Regions from separate parts of the Homo sapiens genome. Here all the other regions are linked to region 2. A link means that fine-mapping ties the variant in region 2 to the expression of a gene that starts in the linked region. Tissue or cell type: whole blood. Region 2 holds a variant in brackets; each other region holds the start of a gene. All regions are shown on one strand. Distances are from middle to middle.

Region 1 (8,169 bases), 230 kb after region 2:
GAGGACAATATTTTTAGGTCCTCCCCCACTGCTAGTAAATTTACAGAATTACAATACCCATAAGGAGCCAATAAGTTTTTAAATAGTGATGTTAAACTAAGTATGTTCAGGCATCTAAGGGGTGTTATGTGCTTTACAAAGAACTGAGAATGTGGTTTTAACAAAATGTTTTCACCCCATATACCACAAACACATGTGCAGTTTCGTATTTGGCTCCTGAGAATATGTCTTACAAAATAGGCCTCAAACCAACACCAAAAGATGACTATCTCTCCTGCTATATGACTGCATCCTGCACTGAGTTAGTTATTCAACAAATGACATTCAGTTATGGCCTAGAAAATATTTGTAGTAGAGACGGGGTTTTACCATGTTGGCCAGGCTGGTCTCGAACTCCTGACTTTGTGATTCGCAAAATATAAAAATTTAGCCTGGTGTGGTGGCGCGTGTCCGTAATCCCAGCTACTCGGGAGGTTGAGGCAGGAGAATTGCTTGAATCTGGGAGGCAGAGGTTGCAGTGAGCCAAGATCACACCACGGCACTCCAGCCTGGGCGACAGAGCAAGACTCTATCCCAAAAAAAAAAAAAAAGAAAAGAAAAAGAAAAAGAAAGAAAGAAAGAAAAGAAAAAGAAAATAATTGTTTAGCCTTGTTTTGGTTTTACTTCATAGTTTCCTGACTTCATTCATGAGGGAAAAGGAATGACACCCAGCAGAGCAGGCCCCGTGGAGCTCCTGCACTTGCAAGCACTCACACCCTGCAGGAAGAACTGGTATACACCCGTACACACAGGAAAGGCCACTGAGAGTCAAACACCACCAGCACCAATTTGTGAACTTTGGTGAGGTGTGAGGTATTATCGCAGGGTAGGGTTTATTTATTGTTGCTGCTGTTTACTGAGGTATAATTTCCACACAGTAAAATTAAACATTTTTAGGCACATAGTTCTCTGAATATTGACAAACTTAGTGATGTGACTACAAAAGCAATCAAAATTCTATCACATAAAAAAATTCTTTGTGCCCCTTTCTAGCCAATCCCCTCCCCTCACCCCTAGTCCTTGGCAAATGCTGATTTGGTTTCTATTTCCATTGTTGCCCTTTCTAGAATATCATATAAACAGAATCACACAGTGTATGGCCATTTGTGTCTGGCTTCGTTCACCTAGAAAAACGCTTTTGAGATTCATCCATGTTGTTGCATGCATGAGTTCTGTATTCCTTCTTACTGCCAAACAGTACTGCATTTACGGACACACTACAATTTGTTTATTCACTAGTTGAGGGACATTTGGATGGTTTCTAGCTTTACATGATTATGAATAAAGCTGCTGTAAAAAGTTGTTGACCGGTTTTTCAGTGGACGTCTGTCTTCATTTCTCTTAGATAAATACTCAGGAGTGAGATTCCTGGGTTGTATGTCACGTGTATATTTAACTTTATAAGAAACTTCAAAACTGACTTCCATAGTGGAAGTCCATTCCCACCAGCAGTGTATGATAGTCCAGCAATATATTATAGCTCTGAATCCTTGTCAGTATCAGATGTTGTCAGTTACCTTGATTTGAGCCATTTTATTAGTAATCCATCAACTTTTGATCTAGGCTGGGCCATAAAATTAAACTTTCTGCTAGCTATATATACTGGGTTGAATAAGTGTCCTTCCGAAATACACATTCACCCGGAACCTCAGAATGTGACCTTATTTGGAAGTAGGATCTTTGCATATGTAATTAAATTTAGATGAAGCCATACTGGGCTGAAGAGGGCCTTAATCCCAATGACTGGTGTTCTTATAAGAAGGCCACGTGACACAGGGACACACAGAGTAGAGCATCCTGTGACAGGAGAGGCAGAGATTGGAGCTAGGCTGCAGCAAGCCAAGGAATACCAGAATCCCCAGCAGCTGTTAGGGCCAAGCAAGGATTCTTCTCAGAGTCTCGGAGAGAGCATGGCCCTGAATACATCTTGATTTCAGACTTCTGACCTCCAGAACTATGTGAGAATACATTTCTGTTTGTCGTAAGTCACCCAGTTTGTGATAATTTGTTAAGGCAGTCCTAGAACTAAAACACTATGAATACAATTTACAGAATACAACAATACAAATAGGTTTATATTTGACTTATATAAAGCTTTCTGAGGATAAAAGCATAATAATTGCTTCTACAAAATTCATTCTAATTAGTTCAAGCATATCACTAGAAGCCTAATTTATTAATATGCATAAAAATTCTTGGGCTAAGTTTTTGACTATTCTATAATTCAACATTTCACTCATTGGACTGAACTTCTGCTAATGAGTCAAGATTAGTGAAGACCACTGTTTATCATGAATTAAGAGCAGTGCAGAAGCAGAATCCCAGTGGTTCCTATCTATGGCCATTGAATATGTGAGACCCACATTTTGCAGAATGTTCTACAAAGGATTAAAAGATGAACTTTCTTTTAGTTTAGTCATTTGTGGTATAATGTACTGGAATGCACCTTTAAAATTTTTTAATTGTAAAATTATGTGTTTATTTTTCCTATCATGAAGTCTAGTTCTGAAAAACAAGACTTCTGTGGTAGAGCCAGTTCTGGTTGTTTCTTAAAGAACAGATCCCTTTTCAGTTTTAGCACAAAGCTCTTCCAGCCCCTGACGAAGAAAATTGTCCCTCTCTCAACCTGTATTAGACTTCCTTGGGGAGGCAGAGGGATCTCCCTCCCCACCTGACCCCAAAACCTTTGAAAGAAAGAAGTTGGTTATTCTGTTACACTATTATTCAATTAGAATTCCACTAATTTAATAACAGAGAATAAAAGAATAGTTACAGTCAATAGCAGGTTGTGGTTTCTGCTGCTAAAACTTTCTGAAAACCTATTGCAAATAGACAGATACTGAGGCAACAATAAGACAGGAGGGCAGGTGCAGATGTGGGAGCAGGAATCTCATGTTTTACATTCATTCCTCTATACTATGTAAACCAGACTTTCTCCCCATGAACAACATAAGGTAATAGCAAGCCTATCAGGTGAACATTAGATATCATTATATGGACTTCTGGGAGGAATCTGGCAGTCTTATGAGCACTTTTCTGTGTTGTGCACTGTGGTTACCAGCTGTACCATGCCTATTTCACAGGAATAGCTGGTGAATATAATCATAACTTCCATAAAATTTGCAGAGCAAAGCAGGTTGTCATCCAAACAGAGTCCAACAATGTTCAGTGATCCGAACAAAAGTCAGGCCCATTTTCACCACTCCTGCTCTCTGATAAGCGTACATTGTCCTTTGAGTGTTTTGGGAGAGCACAGAGTTGACCTATTCTGGGGGACAAGGACTTACAAGATTGGACCACTCTGTTCCAAGTTTGGGCAATTTCAAAGGACAGGGCTTTGGGGAATTGGAACAACTTGTTCAACTTCATTGTGTTTGGGTCTCACTAAACATAGAAACCAGCCTCCCTCTTAATCCCCATCCCACGTGTTGAAAACCATAAACTCAAGTTACCACGAATAAAAGGCCATGGAAGAGTGCCCAGATGCCCTTCGGGATGGGATGACCCAGTTAGGAGGTAACAATGTTTGGGGTTGAGATTGTCCCTCTATTAGAAGCAGACAGAGAAAAAGCTATGACCAAAATGTTTGCATGGCTTAATTAAATATCAACAGATATCTCTATTCACTTTAAAGCTCCAGCACACCAGACAAGGGATCCGAGCTCCGGGCAGGAGCCAAAACCACCATTGCAGATATGCTCCCAGTTTTACCAGCTAATTAGATGTTAAACTTACATTGTAACAATCAACCTGATATTATTGCCTACTGCAGATAGAACTAGAATTCTAATTAGGTCAGAATTCTAGCTGGGATTGTGTAGATGGACAAATTCTTTCAGGGTAGTTTGATATCACTGCTATAATTTATGGTAAAGACAGTTGGGATCATACTGGCAAACTAAGTACCTGCCTACACTCCCTCAGGCCTAAAAATGCCATTGATTATCCCAAAAAAACTGAGAAAATAATCCACTACAGTACGGAAAAAGACAAAATAGGGGCACTAACACACAAGAAGCACTGAAGGCTTTCTGAAAGAGTAATCAGGCCTGATGTTTGTAGTTTTAATGTTTACTTTGCAAACAAAGGTAGAAACAGAGTCTGGAGCTCGGATGCCACCACCAGAGAGGGTGGCTGTTCAGCCTCTCTCCTGTGCAAATTAACCTAATTCTGAACCTGTCTTGGTTTAATTCGCACAATTTCAGGTGCCATGCTAGGTACACCACAAATATACCTCAGGGACCTCAATTGCAAAAACCTGGACTGCAAACGTTGGGGCTGCAGAGTTGACTAGGTTAATAAATTCTTTCTGAGGTAAAGCAGATAACACCCACTAATAAAAAGAATGAAACTTCATCGTCCCATTGGCATCCTCGGGTGTGCAGGTGTTCCTCAGAGCAAAGCCCATGGTGTGCCCCATCGCCAATTCGTGACAAGGCAGGGGGCGGGGGGCGGGGGAAGGAAAAAAGCCTGGGATAAGAAATCAGAGAATACAAGTCGCTTTTAAACAAAAAACAGTGACTGTTAGAGTACACCCACCATTGGGGTAACACGCAATAATCTCTCAGCATCACTGACTCCAGCACAGCTGGTCCCCTGGAAAAGGCACGTTGCCGGAAGGTTTTGTGTGTGACCAAGCAATTGGCCATCCCACGCCTTCGCCCTACCAGATGGGTCCCTGCCCCCGGGAGTCCCCTCCCCCTCCACCCTCCAAACCCAGGCAGCGCCCGCCCCTGCCCCCGCTGATTGACAGGCCGTGCAGCTACTCCTGGGAGCCTGGCTTTCGGGGGCAACCCAGGCAGAAGTGACTATCTCTGCAGCAGCCAATAGAAGCCAGGAGGCGGGGCGGGGAAGCGGCGCGGTCAGGTGCTCCGCTCCAGAGTTGAGCGCAGGTGAGCTCCTGCGCGTTCCGGGGGCGTTCCTCCAGTCACCCTCCCGCCGTTACCCGCGGCGCGCCCGAGGGAGTCTCCTCCAGACCCTCCCTCCCGTTGCTCCAAACTAATACGGACTGAACGGATCGCTGCGAGGGTGAGTCCAGGGGCGTGGGTGGCTTCCCTCCCGGGAACCCACACTGCTCCTCTGGGTCCCTAAAGCAACGTCCCCTCCTTGCCACTGCACATCTAAGAAGCCCAGGCCTCGGTGGGCGGGATGACTGGGAATTGGGAACATAACCTACGCCGCGACCATTCTGGGTGGCTAGGATGGAATCCTGGTGGAGAAGATGGACACCCCCGCCCTTGACGTCTACCCGAGCTACACAAACCTACTCCTTCTGCACTTTCCCTCTTCCGTTTAATCGGTGCCCCGTCCTTCCTGCTCTCCAAGTCTGTTTGTGGAGGAAGGGTTGGAGGGGAGAAAGAACTGGAAAGTACTCAATGAAATGTGGAGCCAGATCCAGGGATTCCACTGTTTTGTGCAGCATTTTGTGCACGAAAAAAAAAAAAATTCTGATTGTTTTCATTCCCCACCCCCCACCTCTGTTTATTGCTCTGTGTCATGGATGTGATGTTGAGTCTTCTTGCCAAACATTCCTAAGCTTTAGACAACACTTAATCTTTGCTTACTTTTGTTGGTCCCAAGAAAGCAGTTTTCTCCTGCTTACACATGTGCCGAATTAATTTGCTAAGATAGATGAAAATGAGGTGTTCCATGTAGTTTATTTCCTCTGCTTTTAGCCTTAAATTACATTTGGTTGATACTAGCCTTCCTTGTTTTAAAAAGGTGGGAGAGAAAATTAGGGGGAGAAAGGACAGAGAGAGCAACTACCATCCATAGCCAGATAGGTGAGTAAATATATTTGCAGTAACCTATTTGCTATTCCTTGCTGCAACTGTGTTTAATGTTCCTTCCAGAATCAGAGAGAGTATTGCCATCCAAGAAATCGTTTTTAAATATGACATTTGAGCTATCATCTTGAGACCAATACCTAAAACAATTTCAGTTTAAGAAATGTCTAGGTATGGTGAAAACACAGTTTAAAACCAGCAAAACAGAATTTATTGCCCTCAGCGAATACCCACAATGTACATATACCTTGTATTTCTGAAAGCAAAGCAAGCATGCCAAGTAGTTTTTATTTACCTGTACCTATAATACAGCAAGGTGAAACAGGATATATTTTTGAAGTTTAAAAATGTCTTCAGGCCGGCTGCGGTGGCTCATGCCTGTAATCCCAGCACTTTGGGGAGCCGAGAAGGGTGAATCACCTGAGGTCAGCAGTTTTGAGACCAGGCTGGCCAACATGGCGAAACCCTGTCTCTACTGAAAATACAAAAATTAGCTGGGTGTGGTGGCGGGCGCCTGTAGTCCCAGCTACTTGGGAGACTGAGGCAGGAGAATTGCTTGAACACGGAAGGCGGAAGTTGCAGTAAGCTGAGATCGTGCCACCGCACACCAGCTTGGGCAACAGAGTGAGACTCCCTCTCAAAAAAAAAAAAAAAAGAAGTCTTCAGCTTAGGAAGATATCAAAAGGCAGTTTCAAGAGATTTATTTGTACAAGTGTGGTTTGATCTAAGTTTTGGTGGGTTTATAAATACCTTCATGCAGGAATGGGTAGAAAAATGAGAGAACAAAAGATCCCTGCTGGATGTGCACGCCTGATGAAAACTGACAAAATTTACATATCTATTGTTTATCCATACAGCGTCTTATTAGCTTTCTTCAATAGAATGAAAGTATTTTAGAAATATACACAGATTAGGGGAAAAGACCAGCAACCTTGATTCACAGAGCTTTAAACCAGGGAAGTGCTTTTACTACACCTATCAATGATAAGATTAAATTTTGACAAATTTTAACATTAGGAAAGTCAACAACAAATTTCAGAATTATATTTCTGTTAATATTTAGTTTAGAATCTAATTATTTAGTTCAACGAATGCTGTGATTTGATTATTAATAAATGAATGCAGATTACTTTTCAATAAATATATCTGGATGTCACAAATGTTATTTCACTTCAAGAAACCAAATTCATCTATTTTCCTCTCTCTTTAGTAATACATCTTTTGTCTGTGATTAACCAAACATAGGGGTTGAAAATAGAAGTGTGCATATACATATATATATAATATATATGTATATGCACCATTATTCGATTTGCTAATGATACTTCATTGTTGCTAGGTTGCCATAGTTGCTCTAGCCATAATGTTAAGGATGTTCACAGGTATTTGACTATAAAAAAGTTTCTGACCAGAAGTCAAAAGTCTGGATCAACCTGAAAATGTTTCTAAAAGTTTTATGTAAATGATGTCATATTTTAAAATGCTGTTGAAGAGCTCACTTAAATAATTCCTTTGAGGGATATTTAGATAAATTCTCAGAAGTGAAAAAGTTGTTTAAATGCAGCTAAACTTATTAGCTTTATTATTCATTTAGCCCCAGGTCTCTTATCTAATACGGAGTTCTGTGACATAATTCTTCCAGGCTGTGATTTATGAATATAACTAGGATTGCTAAGCACTGTTACTCTGAGTTTGGGGTAAAGTATACAAAACAAAATTATTGCCTTTAATTTCTATATGTTTATTCTACAGATTATCTTACACTGAACTGATCAAGTACTTTGAAAATGACTTCGAAATTTCTCTTGGTGTCCTTCATACTTGCTGCACTGAGTCTTTCAACCACCTTTTCTCTCCAACCAGACCAGCAAAAGGTTCTACTAGTTTCTTTTGATGGATTCCGTTGGGATTACTTATATAAAGTTCCAACGCCCCATTTTCATTATATTATGAAATATGGTGTTCACGTGAAGCAAGTTACTAATGTTTTTATTACAAAAACCTACCCTAACCATTATACTTTGGTAACTGGCCTCTTTGCAGAGAATCATGGGATTGTTGCAAATGATATGTTTGATCCTATTCGGAACAAATCTTTCTCCTTGGATCACATGAATATTTATGATTCCAAGTTTTGGGAAGAAGCGACACCAATATGGATCACAAACCAGAGGGCAGGACATACTAGTGGTGCAGCCATGTGGCCCGGAACAGATGTAAAAATACATAAGCGCTTTCCTACTCATTACATGCCTTACAATGAGTCAGTTTCATTTGAAGATAGAGTTGCCAAAATTATTGAATGGTTTACGTCAAAAGAGCCCATAAATCTTGGTCTTCTCTA
Region 2 (8,169 bases):
TGGAAGGCAGGAGGGTAGAGGAGGCTCCTGAGGCTGCTCCAGAGGCCTTCCCTTCGGGGTATCATTTTCTGAGCCCCAACGGTGTACACACACAACACACACATATATACACACGTATATACTTACCTGGACATACAACACACACACACACAAATTTTTACACAGCACATAATAAGTGCCCAGTGACTCCATGCCGGTTGGTAAACTGAATCCAGCTCTTTCAGGCCTCTTTGTTGCTTAAACTTTTGCTGCTTCAGCTTTCCAGTTACACACATTCTTAATATTTAATGGAAACATTACTCATTTTCCCAAATAACAAGCACTGTTTTTTATGTCTTCTGTATTTGTCTATGTACTTCTACATGCATCTCAGACTCTCGATGGTGTTTTTCCTGCTGACCTGCCATGACATGGGCTTTGCATCCAGGCCTGCTTAGGCTGAGCTCACAAGCTGTGTGATGGAGCCTCTGCCCTGTCTTTCACAAGTGTCCTGTTGCAGGGGCTTGATCAGATGTGTCTGGGGAATTCCAGTTAGTCTCCCCCCATTATGGAGGCAGAAGCTCAGATGTCTTACTTCTCTGGGGCTCTCATGGGAACAGAAGGAAGGCACCTGCTTTTACTATTACTATATCTATGGTTTAGAGTTAGTTTGCCACATAACTAAAGATGTGCTGACAATTGTGGAGGATTTAGAAAGCTTCAGGGAAAAGTTAGGATAGACATTAAATTAACGCTAGCTACTTCCACCCGTATAGTTCGCAGATTACTTGGAAACAGACCTGAGTACACTGAAATTGAGGGGCAGCATGGTCAGTCCCCATTATTATATAAATTCAAGCAAGGACACTTTCTTCTGGGGAAGAGGTATGAGGGATCTTTTGCTGTGCCTCTCTCTCTCAGGACATCTCAATACCTTTGATAATTAGAGCTCTGAAGATGGATGGATTTATTTGCACAAAGAATCCAAGGGAAGGCACCTGAATCTCTACTGTCTCCCCCATGTTCAAACTGTAGGGGGACCCTTGTGGGCCCTGACAAAGGCCCAGGGGTGATCAGCAACAAAGTCCCTAAAGCAAGGCAGAAAGAGACAGTTCTGTGGATTGGTCCCTGCCTAGGTTGGAAGGACAGAGGAGGGACAATGATTCTGGGTCCATGAGGTTCTGATCCAAACCTGTTGGCAAACTTGTGCTCCAGGGAAGAGTTTTGTGAGTGAACAGAAGAAGCAGTAACTTTCCCAGAATGTTCAACCCACTGTGGACATTGGGCTCCTCATCTGGGTCTAATTTAACTCCTGGGAACGTGGCTGTACTTTGTACCTTCTTGATTATACTAGGCTGGTGGTTCTTAGAATTTAATGTGTATAAGAATCACTGGGAAACTTATTAAAAATGCCAAGACCTGTGTCCTTTCCCAGAGATTCTAATAGACTTTCCTGGAATGAGGCTCAGAAATATGCATGCTTAACAACTATCCCAGGTGTTTCTCATTTGGGTGGTCTGTGAAGGGCGTCTTTTAAAAAGCACCTTGCCTTCCATAGGGAATAGCAACCAAGATAGAGACCCAGCCATTCTTTTCTTACAAATGTTAGGGCTACAAATGGCACCACCATTTTACCCTGCTGCTGTGGGGCAGTGGCCCCTGGAGCTCTGGGCCCGGTCTCTCCCACCATGGCAAGGTGGGGAAAATACCCTGGAATTTCTGGGCCAGTGGATGAGAGATGCTGATCCTCATCCAGACGCAAATCTGGAATGACTGAAGATGCTCTTTGCTAAAGTTAAATCACTGATCACATTGTGGCCTGCGTACTGAGAGCTGAGGGCAAGTTCTTTCGAGTTTGGCATGTCTGGTATTCACTACTTTCTCTAGTGGAAATTCTGCAAATTTTAATTTGTGCAGGGATCTATGGTTTTTACTAGCCAGATCCTGGGGAAGGGACAAGAGAAAAAAAGCATCAGCAGCCAGGGAACTAATGAGAGAGATTGATTTCCAGGCAGGGCTGGTCTGCCTTCGCTTCTAAGAACAGTTTAGTTCCCAGTATTGGATCTCTGGTCCAAGATAAATGGTAGTCTGAGGAACTAGGCTGAAGGAGGGTGAGAGGGACCTGGTAATGAGCTTTCTAGGAAGCCTGGACCCAGAAGGCTTGACTAAGTGCTAAGGAAAGTGGAAGATCATGTCAGGGAGATAAATTGGTGAAAGCTGGGCAGCCCCCTCACCCCACAGTAGAAGTGATCATCTGAATGGGCAAGGCAGTGGGGAATTGCACTTTGAGGCAGAGTATAGAGATACACTAGAGGTGGAAACCAGAGGTGGGATCCAGAGCCTGGAAGAATTTGCAGATGCAGGAGATGTGATTCTGGTTTTCCATGGTCTTATGTGAGGAGGTAATCTGTGAGACACATGAGTGCTGAGCCACCTCAGGGATTTTGTGTGCAGGAAAGTTCACTTTACAGCTTAGTGGTATGGATCATGACAACCCAACAGAAGATATGTCCATCCAGAACCTGTGAATGTGATCTTGTTTGGAAAAAGGGTCTTTGCAAATATAATTAAGTTAATGATCTCAAGATGAGATCATCCTGGATTAAGGTGATCCCTAAATCCAATGACAAGTGTAGTGTCCTGAGACAAGGTGAAAGAGAAGTGGGAAACACAGAAGAGAAGGTGGTGTGAAAAAAATGAAGGCAGAGATTGGAGTAACTCATCTAGAAGCCAGGAGTGGAGGGATTGCTGGCAGCCACCAGCAGGAAGGAGCAAGTAGTGAGACATAAAACAGATGCACCCAAAGGGTCTCCAGAGGGAATCAACCCTCCTGACACCCTGTTTTTAGACTTCCAGCCTCCAGCACTGTGAAAGAATACATTTTTGTTGTTGTAAACCACCAGATTTGTGGTAATTGGTTAGGCAGTCCAGAGAAACAAATACACCTTGCCTGCAGTTCCCCCTGTTAACAGATTTGGGTTGTAACAGGGGGAATTGCAGGCAAGGTGTATTAGTTTTCCTGGCACCTTCCTTTGAAAATGCAAATACCTCACAAAAAATTAAGTGTATTAGCCATTCAAAGCAGCTTTTATTAATTTAAAATATTTTTATCCTTCTAATGACCTGGGAAATAGAAATAGTTGTGAATTACTAGGGATTGGAGGAGAAAGATCAGCGATCTTGGCATCAGACATGTCTGCTTTGGTCCCATTTTGTTACTAGCTGCATCAATGAGATTAAATGACATTTTAGTGCCCAGGAGTTTATGTAGTTTCTGAAGGTACTTTATTAATACTCAGGGAACAGCTATGGTTCTAGAAGAATGTTTCTCAGACTTGAGGAATGTGCAGTCTGAAAAGGAAAAAGATTGTTGTCGACTCCAGTTGATTTAACATTTTTGACAGTATGCTCCTTAAATAAGTATAACACAAAACAAAATAGACACATACTCACTATTCTTATTGCTTTTATGTATATATATGTATATATATATATATTTATAAAAGACCAAAACAAATTTACAAATCAAATACAGTAAAAACTATAAATAAACACTATAATGCACCCATTAATATGGAATGACTGAAGATGCTCTTTGCTAAAGTTAAATCACTGATCACATTGTGGCCTGGGTACTGAGAGCTGAGGGCAAGTTCTTTCGAGTTTGGCATGTCTGGTATTCACTACTTTCTCTAGTGGAAATTCTGCAAATTTTAATTTGTGCAGGGATCTATGGTTTTTACTAGCCAGAAATATGTTGTTACATTTGACTCTGTATTATTTTTTCTCATTGGTCTGTGAGAATTAGGACAGTGGGGCTTGTTAAACTCGCAGCCATAAAAATAAAAGCAAATATAGGCAGTGGCCATCTTTGTTATACCTGCTGAGATCGTGAAGATGATCCAGAACATGTCTATATTACTGGGTTAAGGTTAGCATCTTAATGAAAACACTACATCAAAAATTCTCATAATAATAATAATAATTGGCCACTAAGAAATTATCTTTGGACCTCCACGGGCTCACTCACCAGAGTTTGGAAGAAACACTAGTCTACGAGGAACTTGGTTATAATATATACATTGCTTTTTCGTCTTACATTTATTACAAACATAATACATATTCACTGTAGACATTTTAGAAAATTTAGATGTCAAAAGAAGAAAAACAATGTTATTTGCCATAACACAGAGAAAAATCACCATTAACATTTAAATATCTGTTCTTTCCCTATGCATACATATATATTTGTATACCCTATTTAAATTTGTTTTCACTTAGCAAAACATGAGAGCAGCTTTCCAAATTATGAAGTATTCCTCTGAAATAACATTTTTATTGTCTTCACTTCGCTAATTCTGTGTTTCTGTCAAAATGTAGTAAACAAGTCACCTATTCTCAATATTTTGATTGTTTCCAGTTTTCGGCCATGAGAAACTATGCTGAGTGTGCCTATTGTTAGCGCACTTAAATAAGTCTATTTACCTGTAGAATATTTTACTAGTATTAGAATTTCTGTACCAAAGAGAATGCAAAATTTAAAAGATTTTTTCACGTGTTAATTATATGAATCAAACATGTTAAAATGAATAAACATGTGGTGGTGATAACTTCATAGCTGAGTGGGGCTGCATGGCTTAGGTGACCATCAGAACTCATTCATTCATTATAGACTACTTTGGGATGAGAGCTGACTAATAAAATGAAAAGTGTTTAATATTATAGGGCATTTATTTTTTTACATGTAAAGGGTCTATTATTATTTTAACTAAATCAATGCATAACATTTTTCTCTTTAAAAGGTTAAAAAATAATTATAGATGTATACAAAGTTGCAAAAATAGTACAGAAAAGTCTCATGTACCCTTCACCAGCTTCCCCCAAAGGTAGCATCTTACTTAGCTATAGTACATTATTAAAACCAGGAAATTGACATTAGAATAATACTCTTAACTAGACTTCAGACCTTACTCAGATTCCACCAACTTTTACAGTCACTGTGGTGTGTGTGTGTGTGTGTGTGTGTGTGTGTGTGT[T/GTGTT]TCTGTGAAATTTTATCCTATATGGAGATTTGTGTAATGATTATAATCACAACAGACACAATAGAGAGCTGTTTATCACTGCGTGGGAACTCCCCTATGGTACCCCCCTTTGTAGTTACCACTCCCCTGGAAACCAGTAATCTATTTCTATCTCTATATTTTGCCCATTTTGGAATGTTACATAAACAGTCACACTAGAGCATATATTGTGAAACACAGTAACTTCAGACATATGTTCTAGGTTACTTTTTTATTTTTTTTGAAATAGAGTTTCTCACTTGTTTCCCAGGCTGGAGTGCAGTGGTGTGATCTCGGCGCACTGCAACCTCCACCTCCTGGGTTCAAGAGATTCTCCCACCTCAGTCTCCCTAGTAGCTAGGATTACAGGAGCATGCCACCACACCCAGCTAATTTTTGTATTTTTAGTAGAGACAGGGTTTCACCATATTGGTCAGGCTGGTCTCGAACTCCGACCTCAGGTAATCTGTCAGCCTCAGCCTCTGAAAGTGCTGAGAATACAGGCCTGAGCCACCGCACCCAGCCAAGATTACTATTTACTATTTGGATATCAAGATGGTTGTAATAGAGATAAGAAGGGATAGATGCCTCTTTGAAATCATTAAAACAAACAAAAAAACTTCAAAAGATAGAAATGTATTCTGTTTACTTTAGTATCTCTAACATCATGGATGATATTCATAATATGTAACAGCATTTATGAAACAAGTACTAACCAATCAGAATAGACACCAGCTGCAAATTACCAGTACAGCCGTGCCAGTGGGCACAGCTGAATCTCAACCCTGCCTACACCAGATCAAAAGGAGCAGGTATCAAGCACACATAAACGCATCTCAAAACACACTGCTTAACCCTAGCACAGTGCCAGCGAATGGTAGGGTCAAATACGGGTCTTTTGAATAAATGAGACATATCAGCCCTCTTTAATGGTTCCTCTAGCCCTCACCTCCAACTCTGAAGCTCTTCTGTGTGGTATTCTCGCAGCTAAGTAAGAATAGGCTATGGATCCTTCATAGTTCTGAGCACCATTCAAACAAACCCTAGGACAGAAGCTTTAGGTGTTATGCACTGGAATAAAGAAATCCAACCTGTGCTTGGTCCCATCACTTTCATGGACCTTAAGCTCTTCTCTTGTCGATAAAAATGATTCTAAAATTGTAACCAAGATTCAGACCAAAAAAATAAGAATGCAGAATTCAATCAAGTAGAAAAGACATTAGTTGAATCCAGTTGAGGCATGAAAGAAATTAACTGCAACTTGGTTAAAGGCGCAGAATTTCGTCTACCTAAATTAGGTGATAACATGTTGAAATAAGGTTATAATAAAAATTGATTGAAGGTAAAGCTTGAAATATGTTCTAGGAAATGTGTGACGTGCAGGGTTGTGAAACTAAACTCCAGCTGGAAGATATAGGCATGGGGTACCCTAATGACATTGCACACAGAACTCAACAATCAGAACGGGATCAGCTTGTTCAGTTAGAATTTGGAGAGAATCAGCTTTGAGGTACGTAGTGGCCAGGTCTCATATGTTGGTATTAAATTTGACAGGTAAATAAGTATATTGTAATGTGGCTCCACTGATAGAGTAAATGTTTCCTCCTAGATTGCGAAAATGACCTTACAACCTGTGGAGTAGAGAAGGGATAACATGAGCCAACCCTGTTAGCCTTAACGTTAAGCCTTAATGCTTTTGTGCTAAGTTTAGCAGTACATCTCATAATCATTCATTTTATTTGTGGTTATTTATTTTTAAAGGTATATTACTGAAACAATCTGACATATTAGAGTATCTGACAAATTAGCCTTGAGATTTTGATTTGAAATGTGTAATTACTATTAGATGTGTTATTTTATTTTGAAAGGAGTAAAAGACTTTGATTATATTTGTGAATTGGTTTAGAATATTTAAGAGACCAGCCTTAGACACATGGGTTGTTCGTCCTTTGTTGAAACCTTCTTCATTTGGTTCTTAGGACTCCACCTCCCTTTGTGGCTCCTTATTGCTCCTTTGTTGATTTCTCCTCTTTCTCCAACTTCAAGTTAAAGTGCCCAGGACTCAGCTTGCATCTTATCTTTCCCTCCTCTCTTACCCTATCATGTCTCATGCCTTTAAACACCACAGATGCACTGCAGCTTCCTTAATGCATGTCTCTTGCCTGAGTTGCACCCTGAATGCCTGACTTGGATATTCATCTTCTACTTGACATGCCTACTTGATGTCAAGGCATTTCAAACTTGACGTGTCAGAAGTCAAATAAATTCATGATCTATCTCCAACACCCTATCACCACTCCTGGCAACTTCTCTCAAGTCTTCTCCATCTCAGGAAATAGCAACTCTTCCTTCTAGTTGCTAATGCTGAAAATCTTGTAGTGATTTCAGGGGATTCATGGGTTTTTTTCTTACAATGTACATCTGCTCCATCAATACATTCATTTAATGCTTCCTTCAAAATATAAGATTCCTATCTCACTATGTCCACTGCTTCCATCTTGTTTGGACTAAGCTATTGTCATCTCTTTATTATTATTTCAATAGCCTGTGTATTGGTCTTCTTTCTTTGCCTTGATTCCCATACAGCAGTGAGAGAGGGATCAATGCAATGAGAGGAATCCTGTTAAAAGGTAAAGCAGGTCCTCCCTCCCCTTTGCTCAAAATGCTCCAGTGACTCCCATCTCACTGAGGGTAAAAGCAAAAGGCCTTACAGGCTATAAAGTCCTAGGTAATCTACTTTTTATAGAGAAAATTTAAAATGCAAAGAGAGATAGAGGGAATGAATTGAAAGTATAGCAATATCTCGGTCAAGGAAGAATTTCTACTTATAAGTTAAGACTGGGCCTGCCTTTTGGACCAATTCTTTATCCATTCCACTTTGTTCAGTAATTACAGCATTCTATGCTTTTATTTCTCTAGCATGCCCAGCCACATTTTAAGCTTTAAAGTCATAAATGTGAAACTAACATAGGCAGTAATGAAAAGTAATTCAGGAGTTATTCAGCACATCTTACTTTGTGCAAATGCCAAATCATAGGACTCTGATGTCCTTCAGTTAAGACCTTTGTATTTCAAGCACCTTCGTGTCCAGATTTACTGCTACTGAAGAATTGAGTTCTTGAATTCTGCCACCTGT
Region 3 (8,169 bases), 380 kb after region 2:
GGTTGTTCTATCTTCTTGGTGAGCTGGCTCTGTTATTATTATTATTATTATGTAATGTCTCTATTCCTGATAATTTCCTTTTTCTGAAGTCTATTTTGTCTAATAGACTTACATTAATATATGTTTATATATTATTAATAATTATATTAATTTAGAGGTTAGCTTTCTTTTTTTTTTTTTTTTTTTTGAGACGGAGTCTCGCTCTGTCGCCCAGGCCGGACTGCGGACTGCAGTGGCGCAATCTCGGCTCACTGCAAGCTCCGCTTCCCGGGTTCACGCCATTCTCCTGCCTCAGCCTCCCCAGTAGCTGGGACTACAGGCGCCCGCCACCGCGCCCGGCTAATTTTTTGTATTTTTAGTAGAGACGGGGTTTCACCTTGTTAGCCAGGATGGTCTCGATCTCCTGACCTCATGATCCATCCGCCTCGGCCTCCCAAAGTGCTGGGATTACAGGCGTGAGCCACCGCGCCCGGCCCAGCTTTCTTTTGATTAGTGTTTGCATGGCAGGGGCTTTTCCATCCTCTTACTTTTAATTTATCAATAACATTGTGTTTGAAGTGAATTCTGTAACAGCATATAGTTGGGTCTTCTTGTTGCTTTTTTATGCAATCCAACAATCTTCAGCTTTTAATTTATGTGCTTAGACCATTTATATTTAGCTTAAGTATTAATATGGTTATATTTAGGTGTACCATTTTATTATCAGTTTTCTATTCTCTTCCTCTTTTCTGCCTTTTAGATTATTTGAATATTTCTTGTCATTCCATTTTAGCTTATCTGTTGGCTTTTTTTTTTTTACTATACTTTTGTTTTATAACTCAAATAGCTGTTTCTTTAGGGATTACAATACACATACCTAGTTTTTCTCAGGCTACTTAGAGTTTACTATATCAAGTAAAGTATATAAACCTTACAACTGTATAAATTCCTTGCCCTTTACCCTTTATGCTGCAGTGGTCATATTATTGAATCTAAATATATTAAAAATGCTATCAGATATGTTATAGTTTTCACTTTCAACAGTCATACAAAAATATGAATGTCACACAGATTTGCATGTCACCCTTTCATTGGAGCCATGCCAATCTTCTCTGTATGGTTTCCATTTTAGAATATGTGCTGCCAAAGTGAGCACTAAATGTGTTTTTAAAGTACTTTCCTGGTAAAAATTTATTCAAAACTTGCACCACATTTGTGAAACTATGGGCTGGAATTAGACATATAGTGTTTTTCTCCAGACAAAGCTAGAATTGACTCTAACCAATTATTCTTTAACATTAAAGGGTACAAAGTAAAGTCCTTTTATCTTGAGCTAAGGCATAATATGAAATTGAAAATGGAAAATATGCACAGAAATAGTTTATGACCAAAGAAGAATTATTTTTTTTGCAGCATGAAGCTTTATAATATCAAAACTATAAGTTATCTGCAGGGATGTCCAAATGGGAGATATTTCCTATAAAATGTTATTGAAAGAGATCTGTCCAAATTTACAATAGCAGTAGATATTTGGAGAAGATAAAATGAAAGTTAACTCTGATAGGTTTGGGATTAAGGAAAGAGAAGTCATACCACACATTGTTTAGATCATAGCCAAGGAAATGATCGAAAATACGTGTAACACATTTTTCATTAAAACAAAAAACAAAAAACCAAAACCCTCGAAGACATTTTATGCATATAATTTTATTTGCTACTGCCACATTGCCATTAAGAATATTGCCTACACTTCAGTGCAGGGATGTTCTGAGTCTGTGCATCATGCAGCGAAGGCACCAGTCTCCCTCTGTAACCTTGGTCCTTCCCTAAAGTATGTAGTCATTGGTGCAGAATGTACAGCTGTGAAGGTGACTGTTTCTCTAAAGGCTTTGGTGATGTAAGCCTGAAGCCAAGCAGGAGGAAAGCAATTAAACATCACCTTGATTAAGTTATAATGTACCAAGAGAGTTGCACGTTGGGCTTGGTGACTGCTTTCTTCAGGAAGGAGGAATTTGCACTGAGAGTCTGTGGGGACACAGCCTGCCATAAAGGGTAGTGAGGACATCTTTCCCTTTTCTTTGCCTATCAGATGCCTGACCTTTCAGGAAGGTTCAGCTAAAGTGCCTTTTGCTCCATGAAGCCTTTTCCTCTCCTCACCCCAACCATGGTAAATAGTATCTTTACGTGACAGCTTGTATAGCTCCTTCATCTTCCCAATTCATGTGGCAGCCTTAGTTTTCATTTCATGTAACTATTATTCTGAAAGGGATTTTGATCTCTGTTAAGACCGTTAAAACCATGCCTTTGTTTCCTCAAAGTGTGCACTTCCATAGTGTGCACTAAGAAAAGCAGTTTGTAGAGCAGTTGAGAGGACAGGCTCAAGTCTGTCTGGGTTTAAATCCTGACTTCACCATTTCCTAGCTGAATGACTAGGGATAAGTTACTTAAATACTTCATGTCTCAGTTTCCCCACTTGTAAAATTGGGATCATTATACTATTTGTAAATATTATACAAGTTCACACATGTAAAGTGCTCAACATTTTTGCCTAGCACATAATAAGTATTATTACTTATTTTTTTATTAAGCGATAAATTTTTTAATAAAGCTATTAAACAAATACATGTTTTTAGTAAGGAAGGACATAGCACAAACAGGATTAATTAAAGAGAAGGCAAAGAAGACAAAGAGAATTCCACCAGATTCTGGTGCAAAACATTCAATAATTATTTTTTAAAGAACTGAAGGGTGGGAATGTCTGTTGGTGCAACCACTTTAGAAAACCTATGGCAGTGTTTACACAAGGAGAGCATTCTTATACACTACAACTCAGCAAGTCCACTCCTAAGTATACATCCAAGAGAAAAGTGTCTGTGAATCCAACCAAAAGATGTTTGATAGAGAGAATGTTCGTGACAGAGTAGTCATGATAGTCACCTGCACAAATGTCCATTGACAGAAGAATGAATAAGTAAGTGTGTCGGTGAAAATGGATGATACACAACTACACATAGCACAATGGATGAATCTCACAAACATAGTAATGAGCGAAAGAAGCCAGACACCAACATTCCAGGCAAAAAGATCCTATGCTGCTACAAGCCAGAATAATGGTTACCCTGGGACAGTGGAGACGGGAGAAAAGATGTGGAGAGGAGAGAGCAGGAGGAGCTTCTAGGGCTGTGGCTAACATTTTATTCTTCATCTGGCGCTCGTTACATGGGTGGGTTGGATTGTGAAAATTCATTGAGGCATACACCTAAGATATGTGCATCTTTTCTGTGTTTGCATCCTACTTCACTAAAACAACCAGAAGAGAACGGGAATGAAGTAAGATCAGAAAATAAAGGAAGAAATAGAAAGAAAATGAAAGAAGGGAGAAGAAAAATAAACAAACCCAGAAGGCTGAAAGGCATGGAAGCCGCACCTGACCGGGTTGACTCACCCCTCTGCCCCAGGAGCCACCCCTGCCCTGCCCTGCCCGTCCCCAGCACCCTACTCTCCTTTTGCTTAGCCCAAGGATGGCAAATGCCCCTTTTGGTGGGGGTTCTGAGCATCACTAAGACAGGAAGGGCTTTCCAAGTGGGTAAGGCTGGTAGTGGAGTAACTCGGAGGAGCTGACGCTTTATTAAAGAAACAGAAGACTTGAGAGCCATCTCCTCTCTTCCTTCCCCTTCCCCTTTCCCCTTCCTCTTCCCCTTCCCCTTTCCCCTTCCTCTTCCCCTTCCCCTTTCCCCTTCCTCTTCCCCTTCCCCTTTCCCCTTCCTCTTCCCCTTCCCCTTTCCCCTTCCTCTTCCCCTTCCCCTTCTCCTCGACTCTTTCTGCCTTCGCCTCATTATCCGCCCCCAGGACATCCTCTTGGCCTTGGTGGCTTTGCCAGGACCAGCTCTGTCTCCGCCTCCTGCCCTGCGGGGTCTTGGGGCGGGGGGCCGTGGCCCGGCCCAGGCCCGAGCTGCCGGGGTGTCCCCGCCGCGTCCCCGCCCGGCTGACCCCGCCCTGCAGCCGCCGGCTATTTTGGGCGCGTTGGCGGCGGCGGGATCGCTGACAGTCGCGGATCCTGTGACACCTCCGGGCAGCCCGGCACTTGTTGCTCCCACGACCTGTTGTCATTCCCTTAACCCGGCTTTCCCCGTGGCCCCCCGCCTCCTCCCGGCTTCGCTCCTTTTCATGTGAGCATCTGGGACACTGATCTCTCAGACCCCGCTGCTCGGGCTGGAGAATAGATGGTTTTGTGAAAAATTAAACACCGCCCTGAAGAGGAGCCCCGCTGGGCAGCGGCAGGAGCGCAGAGTGCTGGCCCAGGTGCTGCAGAGGTGGCGCCTCCCCGGCCCGGGACGGTAGCCCCGGGCGCCAACGGCATGACAGACTCGGCGACAGCTAACGGGGACGACAGGGACCCCGAGATCGAGCTCTTTGTGAAGGTAGGTCGGGGTCCAGTCTCCCGCCGCACCTGCCGCGCCTCCCGCCGGGCTCACCCACCAGGGCTCGGGGTGCGCTGGACTCCGGACCCTCCCAGGAGGGCGGCGCGGAGCCCTGTGCTCCCCCGTGGCCTTTCCGCAGGCCAGCGCCCCGCTGCGAGGCTCCTGGGCGGAATGGAGGAAGGCAGGTTCCGGCAGGTGGCCGTCTTCTCGGAGAGTTGATCCGCAGTTTGTCCACCCCCGTCCCCGCCTCCGCTGTCACCGCTGCGAGTCCGAGTCCAGAGCCCAGCCCGGACGCGATTCAGGCTGGTCCTGAAAGACGTCTCCAGGTGTCGGGATGCGGCAGAAACCTGGCTGGACCCGTGAACCTTTCCTTTAAAACGGGAGGAGGGGGAGGAATGGGAGAGAAACGTTATTGACACAATGATCTTTGGCAAAGCGAAAATGACATTTCTTAAAATTCTCTTTCTCTCTTTCGCTCAGAGATCCTAAAATAAAAGCCAAGGAGACAAAAGTGTTTTCTTGCTTGGTGACTTGCAAAGCAGAAAACAAGCACTCCATTCTCCGACGTTATTATTTTTGTCATAATCATGATTTTTCAAGGCAGTATCAAGGAAATGTTAGGCGTTTGGTAGTAGGGAGAGCCTCCCGTTCAACCTGATGCAGACAGGGATGAAGGAGCACAGTGCAAATTAAATGAAGTCACCTTGCTCCTTGGACAGAAACTGCCTAATGTCAGAGCTGCTGTACTTTATTTGCAACCTGTAGGAGGAAGGATGGAGGCGAGGCTGCGGCGGCGTTTCCCGGTCCGCCGGTGTAAGGAGAAAGAAACATTTGATCAGCCCTTGGTGCCGACGCTGCAGAAGTAGGGAAACCTGAGGCTGCGGGAGAGTAGCCTCCAGGGCTGAGCAGAAACAGTCGCCAGGACTTGGGGGAGGGGAAGTCGGGGACTGCCTGGGCGCCAAGACCTTTCACAAAGGGGGAAAACTCTCTCAGTGCAAAGTTTCCCTAGAAATATGCAGATCGCTGAGAAGGGAAGAGTCACTGGTGCCTGTCAGGGGCCTCCTGGCAGAATTTAAAAGGCATAAATATTCCCTGGAATTGGGAAAATGTTATTTTGCCCAAAAGATCCTTCTCTACAAGCTAATTAAATAGATGTTTGCAAAAAGTATGAGATCTACATAAACCTTGATAACAATCTGTGGTCTTTGGTACTTTCTGACTCTTAAAATGTGACTTACTTTACACTTGGTACGTGATCTGTCTCCGTTGTCCCAGCCTACCACAAAGGTTTGTTAAATTTCTTCTGCTGGGTTTTACATTCTTTGTGTTTATTTTTCAAGCTTACACCTGACATTTAGTGACACTTGCTTTCTTCAGCCTGTTCTCTTCCCACTGTGGCCCCTGTGTGCTCCTTTGGTTTCTGGGACTCCCCCCACCCCCACCCCAGGCTGGATTTCCAGGTCCTTTGGCAGACCCAGGTAATAAAGGAGGTCATTTCTCGTCTGATGCTGGGTAGTGTTGGACCTTAGGGCAGCAAGGGGGTGTTCTGAACCCCAGCATCCAGGCCTGGGCCCTAGGGGTGAATAGGGAGAGCTTTAACAAAGCGATGAGTCTTGCTGCTCTCCTTGAAGAAAGCGATTCTAGGACTTACTCAGATTCCTTGAGAGTGGTAGTTTCAAGGTGTCAAGTTTCTGAAAGATATTTGAAACACAAATAGGTTCTTTAGAACCAAAGGAGCCCTTTGCCCCACTCCTAGGTGTGGAGACCGATTCTACCTGCACCTTTGGAATTTTCTTGTTGGCAGTGTTGGAGAGTCTCTCCATTTATATAAAAACCTTACTGCACAATTTGCAGCGTTCCCCAAATAATTCTAAAATGACTGTGTTGTCATTTGTTTTTTCCCTAAAGGAAATCAATGAGAGCCAGGCAGGCCTTCATGGCTAGCTCAAAAACCAGATTGATGGGGAGATCAAAACATCAGGTATGAAAGTTGTTTTGACTCCTCCCTCAACCCCATCTTTTTGAGCTTCAGGTTAGCAGTTCTCATTTACAAGTAAATGGGACAAGTAAAGGCTAGAAATATTGTGAAATAAAGATGCTGCCCAGGCCTTACTTGAACTGTGTCATTTGAGGGAAGCAATATCCTTGTTGACAGAATCACACTTTTCCAAAGTTTGGAGTTTCTCTGAGGTACATGATTCCCCATAAAAAGAAAGGCCTTCTTGTTGATGGTGTCAGGTAACTGAAGCTCTTTCTGCAGGGCAGGGTGGGTTGGTTTCTATGAAGACTTCCAAGAAGGATGGGTCCCACCCAGTTATAGTCATGACTTGGTCATTTTCAACACCCCCTTGGAAGGACCTCCCAACCTCTTGTTTCCACTGGGTGTACCACTCTAAATCACAGTCACCTAATGAGTTTCACAATGACATGTAATTGTAATTGTCTCCCACGTCAATTGATAGTCATTATCTGTTACTACTACTGCTGATAATGATAATGATAAGAAGAAGGAAAGATTGCAGCATATTAGGACATAATAAGTATGTTCAAATACCTTATCTCATTTGATCATCAGCAACTTTATAAGGCTTGATTCACTTATGTGAAAGATAAAGAAAACAAATAAACTGGATTCACAGGTACCTTATGAGACTCGCTGTCAGAGCACTTGATGAGCTGCAGTTTGCTCTTCTTGTAACAGCCCAGGGAACTAAGAATGATAATTCCTCCTGTTCTGTTGAACAATACATGTGCTCACAGAAAGTAGGTAAAATGCCCAAAGGTAGATGGCAGATAGCATTCAGATCCAGTCCTCAAATCTAGCAGTTTAGACTTTGAATTTCTTGCTCTTTTCCAAATACCTATATGTCAGGCCTGATACCTTATTTTGCCAAGTTAGGCTTTCAAGTGCCATCATGGTGACATTTATTTATGTTATTAATCCATTCTAATGTGTTCATAGAATGCTTCCAAGGAGACTAACCCATTTCTGCTATGTACTCCGAGTCTTTCCCTTTCGGGGAACATTCTGACAGTGACTTTTAAGAGATTATTTCCCCACATTTTTAGTTTCTACAATAAGAAATGTTAGATCATGTCAACTCTGATTCTAATGTCCCATAATACCTGTGGATGGCGCAGGGATTTGGAGATGCAGTACCTGAGTTCAAGTCTTGCCTCTGCCTCTAATTAGCTAAATGATCCTGAACAAATTATTTAACTTTCAGGAGCCTCACTGGCCCTCTTAAAACAAGAGCATGGTTATAAATAAGGAGACCATATAATTTATTGTCCAAATCTAGACACTTTTGAGAGTGAAAGGGAATGATATCAATAATTAGGCTGGAACCACAGGTATAACCCAGGATAGTTTGGGAGCAAATAAGGATGTGTGGTCATTCTGGTTATGAAAATACTGTCATTGTAGATTTGCTGTGAGGATTCCATGGGAGAACATAGGTGAAAACACTTTGTAAATTGAAAATTGCTGTAAACACACTGACTTGAATATTATGAGTCCCATGGCAGACTGAACCTTTCTGGACCTGCACGTCCCTGATTTGCCTTGGGGAACAAAGGCCTGGCTCCTTCCTCACTTGCAGGGATATTTTGAGAGTAAATGAGATAATATGTAGCTTGGACTTTGATCCTAAGAGGAGGACAACAGGCTAGAGGTAATGGCAGTGAGTGTGGTTTATTGAAAGAAATAGAGCAAGGAAGTAAAAGCAAAACAGAAAGCAATTTGAAAAGACAAACACAGGATGTGCTG

The links. PIP is the estimated chance that this variant, and not a neighbour inherited with it, causes the effect.
Region 1: it holds the start of ENPP5, and the variant in region 2 is fine-mapped to the expression of ENPP5 in whole blood (INTERVAL, PIP above 0.99).
Region 3: it holds the start of CLIC5, and the variant in region 2 is fine-mapped to the expression of CLIC5 in whole blood (INTERVAL, PIP 0.92).

The regions. Positions count from the first base shown.
Region 1 is chr6:46,167,706-46,175,874 of GRCh38, reverse strand. It overlaps ENPP5 (ectonucleotide pyrophosphatase/phosphodiesterase family member 5), which reads left to right and starts at 4,895. Exons shown (of 5, transcript NM_001290072.2): 1 at 4,895-5,067; 2 at 5,761-5,822; 3 at 7,578-8,169. The coding sequence starts at 7,613. RefSeq lists a silencer at 4,664-4,723.
Region 2 is chr6:46,394,219-46,402,387 of GRCh38, reverse strand. All of the region lies in intron 2 of RCAN2 (regulator of calcineurin 2), which reads left to right. Among named protein-coding and RNA genes, the nearest start is that of RCAN2, 93 kb to the left of the region's middle. The variant T/GTGTT (reference allele first, on the strand shown) is at 5,016.
Region 3 is chr6:46,011,711-46,019,879 of GRCh38, reverse strand. It overlaps CLIC5 (chloride intracellular channel 5), which reads left to right and starts at 4,020. Exons shown (of 6, transcript NM_016929.5): 1 at 4,020-4,400. The coding sequence starts at 4,338. It also overlaps the pseudogene RNU6-754P. RefSeq lists enhancers at 3,218-4,062, 4,063-4,907 and a silencer at 4,320-4,369.